Homo sapiens: one gene and its partners. The protein of the gene in region 1 purifies or fractionates together with the protein of each later gene. This does not show direct contact. Each region holds a gene or a part of one and is shown on either strand. Other genes may lie near its edges. The genes, in order: MRRF, IBA57, SARNP, ATPAF1 and MMAB.

What was found.
Region 2: the proteins of MRRF (region 1) and IBA57 purify together in Homo sapiens (affinity purification with mass spectrometry; 2 studies listed by BioGRID and IntAct, with this or other methods). This does not show direct contact.
Region 3: the proteins of MRRF (region 1) and SARNP fractionate together in Homo sapiens (co-fractionation; one large-scale study listed by BioGRID). This does not show direct contact.
Region 4: the proteins of MRRF (region 1) and ATPAF1 purify together in Homo sapiens (affinity purification with mass spectrometry; one large-scale study listed by BioGRID and IntAct). This does not show direct contact.
Region 5: the proteins of MRRF (region 1) and MMAB purify together in Homo sapiens (affinity purification with mass spectrometry; 2 studies listed by BioGRID and IntAct, with this or other methods). This does not show direct contact.

What each region holds. Positions count from the first base shown.
Region 1 is NC_000009.12:122,313,380-122,316,899, reverse strand, and holds part of MRRF (ribosome-recycling factor, mitochondrial isoform 1 precursor), read right to left. Parts: coding exon 3,514-3,520; intron 1-3,513. UniProt on the Homo sapiens protein: Responsible for the disassembly of ribosomes from messenger RNA at the termination of mitochondrial protein biosynthesis. Acts in collaboration with GFM2. Promotes mitochondrial ribosome recycling by dissolution of intersubunit contacts.
Region 2 is NC_000001.11:228,168,799-228,172,318, forward strand, and holds part of IBA57 (iron-sulfur cluster assembly factor IBA57, mitochondrial isoform 1 precursor), read left to right. Parts: intron 1-3,520. UniProt on the Homo sapiens protein: Mitochondrial protein involved in the maturation of mitochondrial [4Fe-4S]-proteins in the late stage of the iron-sulfur cluster assembly pathway. Operates in cooperation with ISCA2 in the maturation of [4Fe-4S] proteins.
Region 3 is NC_000012.12:55,793,706-55,797,225, forward strand, and holds part of SARNP (SAP domain-containing ribonucleoprotein), read right to left. Parts: intron 2,372-3,520; coding exon 2,320-2,371; intron 1,176-2,319; coding exon 1,102-1,175; intron 683-1,101; coding exon 654-682; intron 1-653. UniProt on the Homo sapiens protein: Binds both single-stranded and double-stranded DNA with higher affinity for the single-stranded form. Specifically binds to scaffold/matrix attachment region DNA. Also binds single-stranded RNA. Enhances RNA unwinding activity of DDX39A.
Region 4 is NC_000001.11:46,634,797-46,637,380, forward strand, and holds part of ATPAF1 (ATP synthase mitochondrial F1 complex assembly factor 1), read right to left. Parts: intron 1,175-2,584; coding exon 980-1,174; 3' UTR 1-979. UniProt on the Homo sapiens protein: Has a complex stabilizing activity in the assembly of the mitochondrial F1-F0 complex.
Region 5 is NC_000012.12:109,559,997-109,563,516, forward strand, and holds part of MMAB (corrinoid adenosyltransferase MMAB precursor), read right to left. Parts: intron 1,857-3,520; coding exon 1,784-1,856; intron 1,522-1,783; coding exon 1,424-1,521; intron 1,334-1,423; coding exon of another isoform or gene 1,247-1,333; intron 1,109-1,246; coding exon 1,044-1,108; intron 1-1,043. UniProt on the Homo sapiens protein: Converts cob(I)alamin to adenosylcobalamin (adenosylcob(III)alamin), a coenzyme for methylmalonyl-CoA mutase, therefore participates in the final step of the vitamin B12 conversion.

The DNA of each region.
Region 1 (3,520 bases):
TAAAAAGCTGAATACAAAATTGTATATATACTATATGTTCTCAATCATGTTTAAAACTATGTAGTTTTTTTTTTTTTTAGAAAAAAGGAAAAAAGAAATATTCCAAAATGTTAAGAGCGGTTGCCTCTCCAATGTGGGAGGGGAGGATGAACTTTCTCCAATGAACATATATTACTTTGATAATAAGGAACAAAAGTAAACAAAATTTTAAAACTGTCTGATGAAGCGACAATCAGCCATAACCTTGTTTTATATCTTTAAAACATGCACGCACACGTACACACACACACACACCAAAAATTCCAGTCTGGGGCCTTCTGACAGTAGAAAGAACACCATGAAGTATATATAAGGCTCTCTACTGTTCCAAACTTTTAACTCTATGACAGTAAATTAAGTTATTAACAATCCTGGTTAAGAATAAACATTTAGCTGGGCACTCATGCCTGTAATCCCAGCACTTTGGGGGGCTGAGGTGGGCGGATCATCTGAGGTCAGGAGTTCAAGACCAGCCTGGCAAACATGGTGAAACCTCATCTCTACTAAAAATAAAAAAATTAGCAGGGCATGGTGGCACGTGCCTGTAATCCCAGCTACTCGGGAGTCTGAGGCAGGAGAATCGCTTGAACCCAGGAGGTAGAGGTTGCAGTGAGCCAAGATTGCACCACTGCACTCCAGCCTGGGTGACAAAAATAAAAAATAAATAAAAATAAACATTTAAATAATAATATGTTTAGAAAGATATCTGTGATATATCGTATCATATAAATTGTATGATACTTTTTCTTGTTTCGAGAGATAACTTGAAGTTCTACACTAAAATGTTAACAACAGTCATCTGAGTGATGAGATTTCAATTACTTTCTTCCTTGTTTTAACAGCAAAACGAATACAGCTATTTTCACTTAAAAAAATCACAGTAAGAAGCACTAAAGAAAAAAAATTTAATCTGAAGAGGATGGCGAAAAGCCAGTGCTAATGAGTGAAGGCTTCCAGCAAGGTCTTTGTCAAGAGGGTTTTATCAAGAATGCTTGCTATCTGATCATTCTTCCTCTTTCAGGAGTTGTGGGCTCTGGTCCCTGAGGCAGATGTCCTGGCTTGCTGAGTGACTAGTGCCTGGCAGGCCCTGAAGGTCCATAGGCTTACCACCAAGAAGCAATGACAAGGGAAAGCAGTGAAGAAATCCCCTAGGAGAAAGACAAGGAGCCGGCCCAGCTGGAGCCAGGGCCCAGACTATTAATGAGGCCTGGTCAGTGCACAGGAAAGGCCCGCCTAATCTCTGAACCTCTTCTTTTAGCTGATACAGGGAAGGAGGAGGGCAGAGAGATGGCAAGAGGGGAGTTTTGAGGGTTTGGGTGTTAGGTACACTAATGGTGCTTTCTAGCATACCAAGGAAACCATTCAAGGCAGAAATTACCAATCCCTTTTTACAGAAAACAGACTCCAAAGAGTCAAGCAACTTCCCCAAGGTCATAGGACATCAAGTGCAGAACAATCTTTTTCTAACTCTAGTGTCATTACACAGGTACATTACCAGGCTTCTAGGTCATTATCTTCTATGTGTGCTTTTACACAATTACCTGAGAGCTTTTTAAAACTATACATTCCAGCTGGACGCATCTGTTATCCCAGCTACAGGAGGACTGCTTGAGCCCAGGAGCCCAAGACCAGCCTGGGCAACATAGTGAGACCCCATCTCAAGAAAAATGAATTAATAAAAGTAAGTAAAATAAAAATATACATTCCTAGGCAGAGCTACTGTATCAGAAAATGCAGGAGTAGGGCCCAGGAAGCCACCTAAAATTCCCCCCCCCAGGTGACTGTTGTGGCTGTCCTACTAGTAAAATGCTAGTAAAACTAGCATTTTAACTGCTGGTGGAGGAGAAGGGGAGCAGCTAGTCAACTTATGGACTTCTCCAGGGGTCCCTTGCTTCTCGCTTCTCTCTTCACTCCCTATCCAGCCCACATGCCTGTTCAATCTCCCTAAAACAATGCTTTATTGTGGATGAGGAGGCTTTAAGGCCTATCAAACCCTTTATATTACATTGAACATTACTAATTCTATCTCCACATCTTTCCACAGGTGCCACTCAGGTTCAGGCCACCATCACTTCCTGGCTGGATTTCTGCAGCAGCATCCCTATCGCCCTGCCTCCAGTCTTGCCCCCTACAATCTGTTTTCTACCTGGCCACCATAGTCATCTTTCATAAACATAGATGTGCTCTCTCCATCATCTAAAAAAAATCTTTTAAGTGTGTCACTGTATGAGAATCACCTGAGAAGGATTTAAAATACAGATTCCTGGCTCTGTCCCAGATTCATTGACTCAATCTCTGGAAATGGGGCCCCAGATACCTGGATTTTTATAAGCTACCCAAGTGATTAAGGTACTTTGGTAGAGAGATGCTGTTCAGCAAATATTCACTTCTTTCCCCAGACCTCCATAAATATATATATTTCCTTGTACCAAACATATTGAGCTTGGCCCATGTGACTTGCTTTGGCCAATCAAATGTGACAAGAGCAGGTGTTTAAAATGTACTTGAGTGGTTGGGCTTATGATCTTGGCATCTGCTGTTACCATGAAAAGAGGCCCTAGGAAACCTGTTGGCTTTGGAAGATTGAGAGATATAAAGCAGATTTGAACCCAATCCAAGATCTGGAGCCAAGCCCACTGAGCCCAGCCTAGAATAGCTACACCCCAGCTGGCCCATGGAAATGAGAACAAGAAATAATGCTTTGATATTGTCGATCACTGAGTTTTGGGGTAGTTATGTACCATTATTGTGGCCATACATGACTAATATAGATGCACAGCCAATGTGGGACAGTCTGTACATGTTAACGTTCAAACTCCTAAACCTGGTGTACGAGACCTTCCTTCTATTATCTAGCCACTCTGTTTTCTTTATTCATTCCCTAGTCTTATCCTACGTTCAAACCCCAATGATCTTAACTGAATATTGTTTTTATATCACCTTACCTTTGTACATATGGTTACACTTTTCCCCCTTGTCTCTCACTATTTTACTCCAGCAGCTTAAGACTTATTCAAGTGCCACTACTCAGCACACTGAGAACACTAAGTGCTCAATTCTCAGCAACCGGAAAACCAGACAGGAGAGCATTAGCGTAGAGGCTCTGAAATCCGTCTGCCTAAGTATGGATCCGATTTCTACCAATTTCCAGCAGTGTGATTTCGGGCAAGTTATTTAACTTGCCTGAATCTCAGTTTCCTTACTACCTACCTCATAGTTTTGTAGTGATGAGGGTAAATGAAGTAATATAAAGTGTTCAGCACAAAACCTGGTACACAATACAAGTGTCTTATCCTCCTCTATGGATCCCTCTGAATCTGGCATTAGGCTAGGCCCAGAACAGAGACTCAGACAATGGTGATAATGTGAATGAAAGATCAGAGGTATTCTGTTTTAACTGTCCTCACCTCAAACATGAACAAATGATTCCTTATGCTGAATACACAGACACTACTACATTGCTGGCAATAGTACCTGTTTC
Region 2 (3,520 bases), on another chromosome or scaffold:
CACAGGCCAGGGAGCTCCACTCTGAGGGGTCAGGTGGGGCGGGACCATCCTCCGTGGGATTCAGCATCTGTGTAATAATACTTGAAACCCTCTAGCTTCAGTTCTGTTGGAGTTCATGGCCCTGTTTCTCCTCAGCCGTCAGAAGAGGGACACAACAAGGTTACCTCCTTGAGTGTCTCCCCAGGGGTGGTGGGTGACAGGTGTCCAGATGCCACCCCTCCCAGCTATGTGGCATGGGTGGGCTTAGGGCTGCGCTCGTTGGGCACGTTTAGTTCAGTTCATGAGAGTGTAAACTCTTTTCCTTGTCGGGCTGCTGTTGGCTGTTGACCTCCCTCTCTGTGGTTTGCCCCCTCTGGTCACTCCTCTGGGGAGAGGGCAGCCTGCAGGTCAGGGACCACCTCTCCCTGGAAGCCTCTGTGTGTTCCTGCTTCTCTGGTCATTCCCTGCCCATCATTCCTTTATGGTTTTTTCCTGACTGTAGGATTTTTTATTTCAACTTTGATACTTAATATATCATCCTGAGCCATCGCTTCCTTAAAGCACCCTATTCTTGTTTCCTGAATGTAGCACCTTCTTTCAGATGAAACTATAGTTATTTGGTTGTTGTCTTTTAATAGGAGTTGCTTTTTAGAGCAGTTTTAGGTTCTCAGCAAAAGAGCAGAATGTGCAGAGATTTCCCATATTACCTCACAACTTCCCCCACCAGAGTGCTATTTTCGTCACAACTGATGAACCTCTGTTGACATGCCATCATCACTTGGAGTACAGTTTCCATGAGGGCTCACTCTTGGCTTGGTGTGTTCATGAGTTAGGCAAATGTATGATGACACATGTCTACCATCGTAGCATCACATACAGTAGTGTCACTGCCTTGAAATCCTCTGTGCCCTGCCCATCCATCCATCTCCCCTAACTCCTGGCCACCACTGATGTTTTCAGTGTCTCCATAGTTTCATGCTTTCCAGAATGTCCTGTAGTTGGACTCATGCATCTGTAGCCTCTTCACATTGGCGTTCTTCACTTAGTGATATGCGTTTAGATTCCTCCATGTTTTTTCATAGCTTGACAGCTAATTTCTTTTTTTTTTAGACAGAGTCTTGCTCTGTCCCCCAGGCTGTAGTGCAATGGCGCAATCTCGGCTCACTGCAACCTCTGCCTCCCAGGTTCAAGCGATTCTCCTGCCTCAGCCTCCTGAGTAGCTGGGATTACAGGCATGCACCACCACGCCCAGCTAATTTTTGTATCTTTTTTTAGTAGAGACGGGGTTTCACCATGTTGGTCAGGCTGGTCTCGAACTACTGACCTCATGATCCGCCCGCCTCGGCCTCCCAAAGTGCTGGGATTACAGGCGTGAGCCACGGCGCCCGGCCGACAGCTAATTTCTTTTAGTACTGGTTAGTATTCCATTGGATGGACCACAGTTTATTTGTCCACTCATCTACTGAGGGACATATTGGTTGCTTCCAAGTTTTGGCAATTATGGATAAAGCTGCTGTAAACATCCATGTGCAGATTTTCATATGGGTCTGAGTTTTTTTGTTTTTATTTTTTAGACACAGGGTCTCGCTCCATTGCCCAGGCTGGAGTGCAGTGGCACAGTTGTAGCTCACTGTACCTTCAAACTCCTGGGCTCAAGTGATCCTCCCACCTCAGCCTCCCAAGTAGCCAGGACTACAGGTAGTTGAGGTCTCACTATGTTGCTCGGGCTGGTCTTGAACTCCTGGGCTCAGGCGATTCTCCTGCCTCAGCTTCACAAAGTGTTGGGATTGCGGGCATGAGCCACCATGCCTGGCCTCCTTAGGGTCCCTTTCTATCAGTTGGTTTTGATCTCTCTTCATGTAGGAGGCAGAGAGAGGCTGTAGGGTCATGTTGCAGGTAGGATTGTGGTCCAGTGGCCTTGCTGCGAGCTGGCCGGGGCAAGGATGTGGACTCAGTGCAGGGCTCAGCAGGCCCAAGAGTGTCAGGGCTGTGGCCTTGTGTCTGGCCAGCACTGAGGAGCAGGAGAGACTTGTCAGGCCTCTGGTGGCCTGGGGAGGAGGGAGGAGAGAGAAGGGAAGGAGTCAGGCCGGGTCCCAGAGCAGTGTTTTCCTGAACATGACTGGAAACCCTTGGATCTGATGGCCAGGGGACCCTTTCTTTCAGTTGGCTGGGCCAGAGCCACCCCTGACCTCCCTCCTCTTCCTGCACCCTTGCTCCCACCGGGGCTTCTGGGCTCAGCAAACAAAAGCACAGGACACCCAGGTCCGTCTCAGACGAGCAACGGATGATCTGTAGGTGCATCCTATGCGGTATTTGGGATATACTAAAAAAAGTAATTTGTTGTCGATGTGAAATTCTGATTTAACCAGGTACCCTATATTTTCTTTGGCAACCCTGTCCCCTGCGCCCCTCAGCGGTATCTGGAAATATTTTTGGTTGTCATGATGGGGTGGGGTACAGGCCAGGGGTGCTGCTTAGCATCTGGACAGCCCCCACTATGGAGAATGATGAGGCTGAGAAAGCTCCCCAGGCCGGGGCTCTCCTGTGAGGCAAGTCTCCTGGCAGTCTTCAGGTGTGGCAGGGGTTGGGGTGGGCCCGGGGGTCATGTCCCAGCTCAGCTGGTCCTGAGAAGCTGCCTGGTAGACAGTCACCGGCACAGAGAGCTGGAAAGTGCCCTCGACCCCAGAACCTGGGTCCTGTGAGGACATCCACCCTGTGTGAGGCCAGGGAGTGCTCAGCAGATGGGGGCAGCAGGGGGTGTCAGCATGGGTGGGGGTTCCTGCCAAGGCAGGCAGCTGAGCTGGCCCCACCTCAGAGTGCAGGGGCCCTCAGCTTGATCTTTTCTGGGCTCCACTCTTGACTGATGGACCCATGGGGCACCCTGGCCCCACCCTGCCTGCCTTGCCCCAGCTCCTGCCCTTGCCCTGTAGGGCTCTGCGGCCTCCCCTGTGCCTGTGTGCCTGGCTCACTAGACCCTGGACCTGTGGTCCCTCAGCTCCACTCTAGTCCCCTTACTCTGTCCCTCTACTGCCTGGCGTCGCTCAGCTCCTCCCTGCCTGTCCGGCGCCCAGCATCCTGTGCCCATGACCTCACATCTGTCCCTCTGCCCGGGTCCCCCACTCACCTGTGTTTTGGTCCATCTTTGTCTGCTGACCCCACTATAGATTTTAAAAATACAAATATGCATGCACGTGGTTAAAAACTCGCTGATGTCAGATGGCTGGGATGAAAGGACTGCCTGCTGCCTTTCCTCTTGTAGTGCTCGGACACCTCTGCAGGCGAAGCTCCTTGTTTTTTTTTTTTGTTGTTGTTGTTGTTGTTTTTTCACTTCTTATTTTGAAATAATTATAGATTCACAGGAAGTTGCAAAAAAAAAAACAAAACAAAACCCGTGGGAGAGATCGCACGGACCCCTCCCCAGTTCCCCTGATTGCACACACAGGGCATATCTGGGGTCTCTGGATTTGTGTGTCTTACTTTGTGCGTCTGTGCACGCATGTGTATAACTGCAGTTTTATCACGTGTGAATATCTGTGGCCAT
Region 3 (3,520 bases), on another chromosome or scaffold:
TTTTCCTATCTATACATGCACTCTTACATGACTAAAATGGGAACGTACTGTTAATATAATTTTGTAACTTTTTTCATTAATATCTCTGATAAATATCTTTCAATATTATTTCAGCACAGTAGTCTGCTATACCATGGCACACATTTAATAACTAATTCTCTGTTGTACAGTTGGTTGTTTCCAGTTATTGATCACTATAAATAATGCTGTGATAATCCCTGAGGCTAAGTCTTTATGCACATTCAAGACTATTTCCTTATACGTTCCTAGAAGTAAAACTGTTAAGGTAGAAGATATTCTTTTCCCTTTTATCACTTATAATAGCCAGTATAACACTAGATAGTATGCAATAATTTTATGCAGTTGAGACCCCAGAATAAGTAAGCAAAGTACTAGAGAAACTTCTTTGAAGATGTTCAAGAAAAGACAGACAAATGTTGGCACTTCCTATCCTCTCATAACATTCAGTATCTCTCTTAATTGCCCAGGAAGGCCTAAGTATAATTTTACCTAAAGCAGGAGATGAATGTTACAATCTCTTAAAGAGTTTCTACAGCTAGCAAATTTACCTTATTTTGGAGAAATAAAACCTGTTATACCAGAAAAGAAAGAATAAAAAGGTAACTTTCTCAGAAGTATCTCTGTACTCTTACCTTTTGTTGGAACTGAAGAAATCCCAAACCTGAAGAAGGAAAAACAAACTAAATTTTAGGAAGCTGTTCACACTCCTGGTTTGTCTGTCTCCGTGTCAAGTATACATATGACACTTCTTGCTTGTGATCTCAAGCCTTGCAATCATTAGCTAATTCTAACAACCCCATGAAAGAGGTTCAGAAATTAAGCTAAAAGGAAGCCTTATCAGAATTAGTAGTAGTCAGTTCCTGGCTTTAACTGTTACAAAAACCCTTCTCAATAAAGCTCAATTTATAGCTACTATAACCAAATCAGTAGACATGTTCTGAATAGGGTCAAAAAAGTGTTCATATCCTTCAGCAAGCCTCTATTCTACTTAAAATCAACAATTATACCTAAAAGCTAGGATCACACATCTTCATCTTTACAACACCCCTATCAGAGGCCCAAAAGGCTGGGGACACTCACCTAGCTGCCCGAGCAGCTTTCTTACTCTCCAAGCTCACAGGTACATTGAATCGTTCAGCCCTCTTCTGCATTCTCTAAGTAAAAATAGACAAAAGGGAGAAAAAAAAGTCAATTTATGGTTTAAGAAAGTCAGTCAGAGGTAGGTATCTTTAAAAAAAAAAAAAAAAAAAAAAAAAAGAGTCTCACTCTGTCCCCCAGCCTGGAGTGCAGTGGCATGATCTCGGCTCACTGCAACCTCAGCCTCCTGGGTTCGAGCGATTCTCGTGGCTCAGCCTCCTGAGTAGCTGGGATTACAGGACTGTGCCACTGTGCCCAGCTAATTTTTGTGCTTTTAGTAGAAATGAGATTTCACCATGATGGCCAGGCTGATATTGAACTCCTGGCCTCAAGTGAACTGCCCACCTCAGCCTCCTAAACTGCTGGGATTACAAGCGTGAGCCACCTGGCCCAGCCAAAGGTAGGTATCTTAAAAACATCAGAAGTAATTTCTTAGGGTCTAAACTGAAAATACTGACAATCCTAGAAGATATCAGGTTGTGTCCATGCTAGGACTTAACGGCCCTTCCCACAAAGCAAACAAAAAAAGACTATTACTAGATGCCCTCAAAAACAAAAGGGAGAAATAAAGTAAAACCTACATTATGCATGAAGCCAAGAAGTCAAAAGCTATGTTTGGCTGACCTTTGAAAAGTGATCAAAGGAATAGCTTGGTTCCAACACCAATGGTATTCTTTCAGTTAGAAATGAGGCAGCATTGTTTTATGCCATTCTAAAAGAGTTTAATAATTCTCTACTTTGCAAGTATGATACTGAACACAAGATCTCAAATGGAACCTGGTTTCACAGTCCTGCACCACAGAAACCAGAGAAATTTCAATCTCAGCTACTGGCCAGTAGCAACATAAGAGTCACATCTACCAATACATTTTCAAGGTACAATCCTCCTAAATCTAATCCTAGGTTTGAAAACATCTCAAAGAGAGTCACTGTTAAGACCATAATATTACATATAAAAAGACTACAACTTCAAGAATGACTACCCCTACGCCAGCCAAATATTTTCCAAAGAGTAGCTGGCAGTGAAACGTATCAACACCAAAATCTGCCAATACTGATTTTCTGCCTGTGAATAAATTTTAGAGGATGATGCAGATATAATAAAGGGTAAGAGGGAGAGAGAAATGTAGAGACTGTTCTACTAGGGAGCAGAATACCTACCTCAGTCTGTGGTATTTCAGATGTAATTTTCACCACTTTCTTCTCTGCTGCCCTAGAAAAGAAAGAGATTTTTTAAAATGAGAAAACTGATATTCTAAACCACAACCTCAGAAATGTGTAAGAATTCACCTGAGTCACCATTCTCTGCCCTATTATCTCTCTGCCACCCCCTAAGCCAAAGAAACATGAAGTCCACTAGAGCTTTGGTTCCTTTAACTGTCATCTATTGAGAGGAAAGAGTTCAAATAACAAACTAAGCTTCTTTAGCTAAAGTATAATAAAGAAATAAGGAAAGAAGTCTGGTTAAATATACTGGGCTGAAGGGAAACACTCAAAGGACACCAGAAACCATCTCATTTGCTTTTAGGAACTTTTCAATTTACTTTTATTTTTCTGAGACGGAGTTTTGCTCTTGTCGCCCAGGCTGGAGTGCAATGGCACGATCTCAGCTCACTGCAACCTCCACCTCCTGGGTTCAAGAGATTCTCCTGCCTCAACCTCCTGAGTAGCTGGAATTACAGGCACCTGCCACCACGCCGAGCTAATTTTTGTATTTTTAGTAGAGATAGGGTTTCACCATGTTGGCCAGGCTAGTCACGAACTCCTGGCCTCAAGTGATCCACCCACCTCGGCCTCCCAAAGTACTGGGATTACAGGCATCAGCCACCGAGCCCAGCCTTTAATTTACTTTTGAACTAATGAGTAACCCTCCAATCCTCCTTTAAGTACCACCTCCCAATGTTCATCACAACAATTAATAAGTACTCTACAAGGTCTGGTTTCCTTCTTTTAAAAATCCCTTATTTCTCCCATGGGGAATGTAGCTCTAGCTGGAACAGTCAAAGTGAAACAAATAAAAATGCCAAAGAAGGTAGGAAGAAAAAAGTCTAAGGGGAGTTTGAATTAGGAAAACATGGTAAGCTAGTGGTCAAAGGTTTAAGAGGAAACAAAAGAGGGGGGACCACAGGGGCGGGAGACAAAGTTCGGAAGTACCCACGATAAATGGAAGGGCATTAACCCTCCACCAAACAACTCCCATAAAACTGTGGGTCATAACCAGTCTCATTAAGGTCCCTCATTTAGAGACATGGGCAGCTTTTGTTCCAATATCCTGAACACTTTTCCCATTTGATGCCCTGAAAGGTAGTAATGGTTTAATGACATTTTCAGAGGAAGCAATTCTGGAATAAGAACTTACTCT
Region 4 (2,584 bases), on another chromosome or scaffold:
TCTGGCATTCCAAACAATTTTTCAGTCCCAAGATGAGTTTTGATAAAATCAGCCCATAGCCCTGACACAATGGACAGTACATAACTCAGATTTCATTATTTTGTATAACAAACATTGTAAGCCAGACTTAAAAAAAAAATTATTGCTATATTTTCCCCACATCCAATCTGGGAACATTTGCTTTCATCCACTTTTTCGTATCATGTTTAGAGTTGTTTTTAAAAAAATCATGCAAACCAGGATTAATCTTCTCCTTACAAAAGAATTTTATTTATACTGCACTGATTCATTCCTTCAAACACATAGCTTCTAACAGGTGGAGTTAGAAAAGCGGGTGCCACAAACTATGGTTTAATAGTATGCAGGCCCTGTACCTGTTTATCTAACTATACCTGAAATTTGCTGATACCCCAAGCCAGCTACTTACACTAAAGGCATCTCTGGGGGGCATCATCTAGATGAAGTCTTTAACCTGATGGGAATATCTGGTTATTCTACAGTTTAAACAGGATGTTTGGCTTATGCTTTTGTTCAGCTGACTGGTGCCTGGGAAGGATTAAAGCCCATATCTAACTACAGCAGGTCTTCAAGCTTATTATCCTGTCATGAGTTCATAAAGATGACAAACTCATCATTTGGGAGCTATAAGGTCAAAGTGGCCAGAATGCAACTGCGCTGTTACACTGTGCAAAATCAAGTCAACTGTCTTGTAGGTCCTTGGCTGTCTCTTGTTATAACCTCGAACACTTAAAAAAGGAAACCTCAAGTATGCTGAGATAATTATCAGAATGTTCAGGTACCTTTGTTCCTGAATATCAAGTAATAGGGCTCATCTCTGTGACTGCTTGCGACAAGCACATAGGGCAACTCATTACCAACTGCTCATTATAAATGCTGAGCTCTTGAGTTCCTGAGGAGGGGGTGGGCTCTAGACTATCGAGGGCTGAGTCAACTAGGTGAAGGGCCAACCTGTACAGTTCTAAGTCTTATTTTGGTTCTGGGCACATTTCAGTTCTGCTCCAAGTCCGCTTTGCTCCAATTCAGCGATGACAGACATATATTTGAACTCATTTGGTCTGAGGTTAAAGGTCTCCACTAACCCGTAGGTCTCTTTCCGATCAGTAGCGTAGAAGAGCTGAACTTGGTTGGCGATGCACTGTGCCTCAGCAACATTCTGTAAGGTAAAAAGAATAATGAGGTCCTTTCTTGCACAGGGCCACAAAGCTCTTGTCTGAATTGTGTGGTGGGTGGGGGCCCTCGCCCAGGAGTCACCACTTCCAGAAAGTTTCCTTAACTTCTTGAAGTCCCTAGTCTTGGTTAGGTGCCCCTTCTCTGTGTACCAAATCATCCTGTGCTTACCACTGTCATAGTATTTATCACACTGTATTGTATTTTTCCTTTTCTTTTTTTGTCTATTTTCCCTAGTACAAATTCCTCAAAGACATAGACCGTGGTTTGTTTTATATCTCTGCAGAGTGACATCTGGTGAATGTTTACTGAATAAATTAATGTACATGTTCACATTATTCCTCTTCATCCAGTTCCCTAATAACTGTTAAATATATTTCAAGGGGGGAATAAGACAGCAACAGTTACCCAGCTCTAAGAACCAGTTTGTGAGTGAGAACTAAGTTCTTGACTAACCAGATATACACTTGAATAAAACCTGTTATGATACTACCTTGGTCAGAAAAGTACTCCCAGAGCCAGCTGTGATGGTTTTAAAATTTGCCCACAAATTTTAAGATATTCCTCCCTTTGATGGAGCCTAATTTCCCTTTCCTTGGGTAATGGCTATACTCAGTGACTTCCTTCTAACAAGTAGACTATGACAAAATGGTTGGGGGCATTGGTGTGAGCCTGTAGTCCCAGCTACTCAGGAGGCTGAGGTAGGAGGATTGCTTGAGCCTGTCTGGGTAATGTAGTGAGCCCCTTAAAAAAAAAAAAAGACTATGAAAAAATGAAAAATGATGGAGAATGAGTTCTGCTATCAAGCCATAAAGGTTGTAACTTTTCTCTTGCTAATTTTCTTGCTCTGGGAAAAGTCAGTTGCCATGTAGTGAGGACATTCATGCAGCCCTATGGAGAAACACGACAAAGACATGAGGCCTCTGCCAAGAGCCATGTGAGTGGGGCTGGATGCAGACGCTCAAGCCCAATCAACCTTCGGATGACTATACCCCTAGATAACATCTTGACAGCAACCTTGTGAGACCCTGAGCCAGAACCACTCAGCTAAGCTGCTACTACAGAAACTGCGAGGTAATAAATGTTTGTTGTTTTAAGCCACTAGATTTTGTATAATTTGTTATGCAGCCATTTATAACTAATACATCAGCAAAGGCCCAGGGAAGAGAAGGGCAGTAGCAGAGAAATGGTGAGCAATAGCAGAGAAATGGTGAGCAGGCCACCCTACATGACAGAGGCAGAGAAATTAGCCAGATGTGGTGGCATGAGCCTGTAGTCCTAGCTACTCGGGAGGCTGAGACAGGAGGATTGCTTGAGACCAGGAGTTTGAGGCTGCACTGAGCTATGGTCATGCCAGCACACTCCAGCCTGGGTAACAGAGGAAGACTCTATCTCT
Region 5 (3,520 bases), on another chromosome or scaffold:
TGCATGGAGGACCTATCAGCTGCTCCGCCATGCCTGTTTTCGGGGCCTTTGGGTTGTTTCCAGTTTCTTGCTATTATGAGCACTGCTGATGGATGGCTTTGTACAAATGACAGTTTTTTCTTTTGAAGCCAAAGCTTGTTCTGTTACCTGGGATCTCTAAGGAGCTATCTGGGCCCGAGAGCCTTTCATAAAGAACAAAACCTTAGTGGTGTGGGACCGTGGAAGAGCTCAGGCTTGGCCCAGACAGACGTGGACTCCAATCTGGATTCTGCTATCAACCATGTGGGGGACCGTGACCATGGTGTCATTTCTCTGAGCCACAGCTTCCTGACTCCTGTAAAACAGAGGCCACCACCACCTCTCTCCCAGGGCTATCAACAAGGAGTAAATGAAATTATGAACATAAAGTGCCAGTCCATTGGATCAAAGTAGGGCTTGCTTTCTCTTCTCTGTAAAGCTGGCTGGCAGCCTGGTCTCTGAGTGGTGTAGATAGAGACTTTGCTCATTTTCTTCTAAAGATTCCTTGAAAAGGCTGTCAGTAGCTTTGGAGGAGGTGGTGGCTAGTCTGCTGACAACGTCCACCTGGGCTCCCCACAGCCATGCAGGCCTTTCAGGAGCCTTATGCACCCAGCAGCCAGCAGGGTCCTTTCATGTCTACCCCTGTCCCCAAGATGGCTGAGGCTGAGAACCCAGCAATAACTTCCTGCTGTTCTCAGAATACAGGGCTCACAAACAAGGTGCAATTGTGTTGTCTGATAGTCTATTTGGTCACATGTCACTGTCTCCACTTCACAACATGGTGCTCTGAGGACAGGGACTTGGTCTGTCCTGGTCCCCGTCTGGCACAGTGGAGGGGCCCAGACAAGGTCTGTTGATGTGTGGCTGGATGGCTCAGAGATGGCCCTGCTGTACCTGCCTCCTGCCCGCTGTGCAGAGGCCCCTCTCCCTCTCCCCATCTCCGTCCTCCTCTCCCTCTCCCTCCCCCCTCCCCCTTGTTCCTCTCCCTCTCCCTTGGGCCCTCTCCCTCTCTCCAGCCCTCTTACCGTCTCTCGGCCCGGCGGCACACGGCCCGGCAGAAATGCAGCGCCGAGCTGATCTTGCCTCCCGACTGAAAGGAGAAAGGGACATTGCCTGAGCAGGGTGGGAAAGGTGTGCCCACTGCGGACAGGAGCTCCTCTGAAGTCCAGCCCTGCCCCCCAAACCGGGCAGTGTTCTGCCTCCAGGAGCCCTGCCACGGCACACCCACCGGGCACGCTGCTCCAGAGTGGGCAGGGCTGGGAGGGACCGGTGAGGACCTGGAGGGACTTGGGGAACTGGAGGACAGCGTCTGTCACTGTGAAAAGAGGGATTTATTCAGAGCCCATGTGTGTCTGTCACTGAACCTGCCTGCAGCCGCCCCCGGTTAAGCCTGCCCAGTACCTACAGGCAGGATGAAGGCCGTGAGTGGTGGGAGCTGGCTGGTGTACTTGTCGATCCACTGCTCCAGCTCCAGGATGGGCCCCGCCTTGAACGTGGTATACTCTGAGGAGCCAAGGAGCAGAGGGAACTGCCATGAGGCCATCACCCACCAGACCATGGCGGGAACCACCCCCGCCGCCCTTCCACCTGGGTGTCCCGCAGACTGCTTCCACTGGCTCAGAAGGTACCTTCCCTCCCAGGAGCTACGAGCAAGGCTAACTGACCCACCCGTGGGTCCCTGGGGGCCTGGGATCCCAGATGGTGACCCTAGGAGAGTCCCCTGACCCTAGGGCCCTCTGAACACCCACAGGAGTTTGAGAATTACTTAAGTGAGCCTCCCGGGCCGAGGAGCATGGTGTCGCCAGGGCCGAGCCGACGTCCTGCAATGTGCACTGGATCTGGGGGGCGACAGAAAGTGACAGTCAAGATCTATGTGAGATGGGCTGGACAGAGACAATGTGCAGAGGCGCCACCTAATACGCCGGCAAAGCCTGTGCCAGCTAGCTCATGAAGGGCTGTGATATGGTTTGGCAATGTGTCCCCATCCAAATCTCATGTTAAATTGTGATCCCCAGAGTTGGAGGTGGGGCCTGGTGGGAGGTGATTGGATCATTGGGGTAGTTTTGAATGGTTTAGCCCCAGCCCCCTAGTGCTGTCTTGTGATAGAGTTCTCATGAGATGTGGTTGTTTGAAAGTGTGTAGCACCTCCCTCTTCACACTCTCTCTCTCCTATCAGCCATGTGAAGATGTACCTGCTTCCCCTTTGCCTTCCGCCATGACTGTAGGTTTCCTGAGGCCTCCCCAGAAGCAGAAGCCTGTACAGCCCACAAAACCATGTGCAGATTAAACTTCTTTTCTTTATAAATTATCCGGTCTCAGGTAGTTCTTTATAGCAGTGCGAGAACAGACTAATACAGGCTATCAGACCTTGAACTGGCTGACATTTGAAAGCAAACTCTGAACTTTCAGCACAACATCTTCGTTGGACACCCAGCCCTGCTGAGGGGGACCTGGTGTGGCTCTTTTGCAGTCTGAGGGAGGAAAAGGCTCCCATGGGGGCAGCAGCTGGGTTAAGCAGATGACACGCATCACACACCCAGGGACAGTCAAGAGGAACCGTCTGGGCTCTGTCCACGTCTCCTGTGCACCTAGGCCCTGTGAGGTTTTCTTCTTTTCTCAACATTTGACAGCTTTGGTTTTCTAACCTGTAACAGTTGGGCCAAGAGGTCAAATGTGACAGTGCTTTCTAAACTCTAAAGGACAAGGAGCTTGGAGAATGTAGTCAGCCGAGGCGTGTGGGGATTCTGGGAGCAGGAAGCCTGGCTGGGTGAGGCCTGTGCTCTGTCCAGGTGGGGAGTGGGTTTGCTTGGAACAGAAGTGGTCTGTTAAGGTCTGCTGCAGGACTCCAGGCCCCTGCATGACAAATGTCCAACAGCTCTCATGCATGTGAAGACCACAAGTACCACCTCTGACTTTGTGCCCAGCCAGGGTCCACTCAAGCTGGATGGTGGGCTACCAGGAGGGTGAAGGTCTGCGACTTCTGACCTCTCCTAAGATGGCCACTGTGACAGCATTCAAGAAGCAGGCCATGGTGTGTGAGAGCAGAGGCTGCCCATCCAGCACTGGGCTGGAACCTTCCCAGGGCTTCTGACCAGCAGACCTTGGGCAAGCTGCTTCCCTGCTTGGGGTCTCTGCACTTTCACAGTCAAAGCGGGAGTGATAATACTACCCACTTGGTTGGCCACGTGCAGCGTGTACCCCAAGGGCTGGGGAGAAATGGCACCAGTTTGGGAATCAGATTCCAGCTCTACTGATGCCTGGCTGTGGGGGCTGGGCAAGTCAGCCTTTCTGAGGCTCAGTTTGGCTCCCTATAAGCTGTGGACATTAACTTCCACCTCACGGGTGTCTGTGAGGGTGAAATGGGTGATATGAGGAAAGCAGTGGCATTGCTGCCCGGCCTCATCCACAGGCCCTGCGAGCGGCTACCAGGCCAGGCGGGGCTCCCAGGTGAACCAGACACTGTCCCCGCCCTCACAGTGCCAAGGCTGGGTGGGAGGTGGAT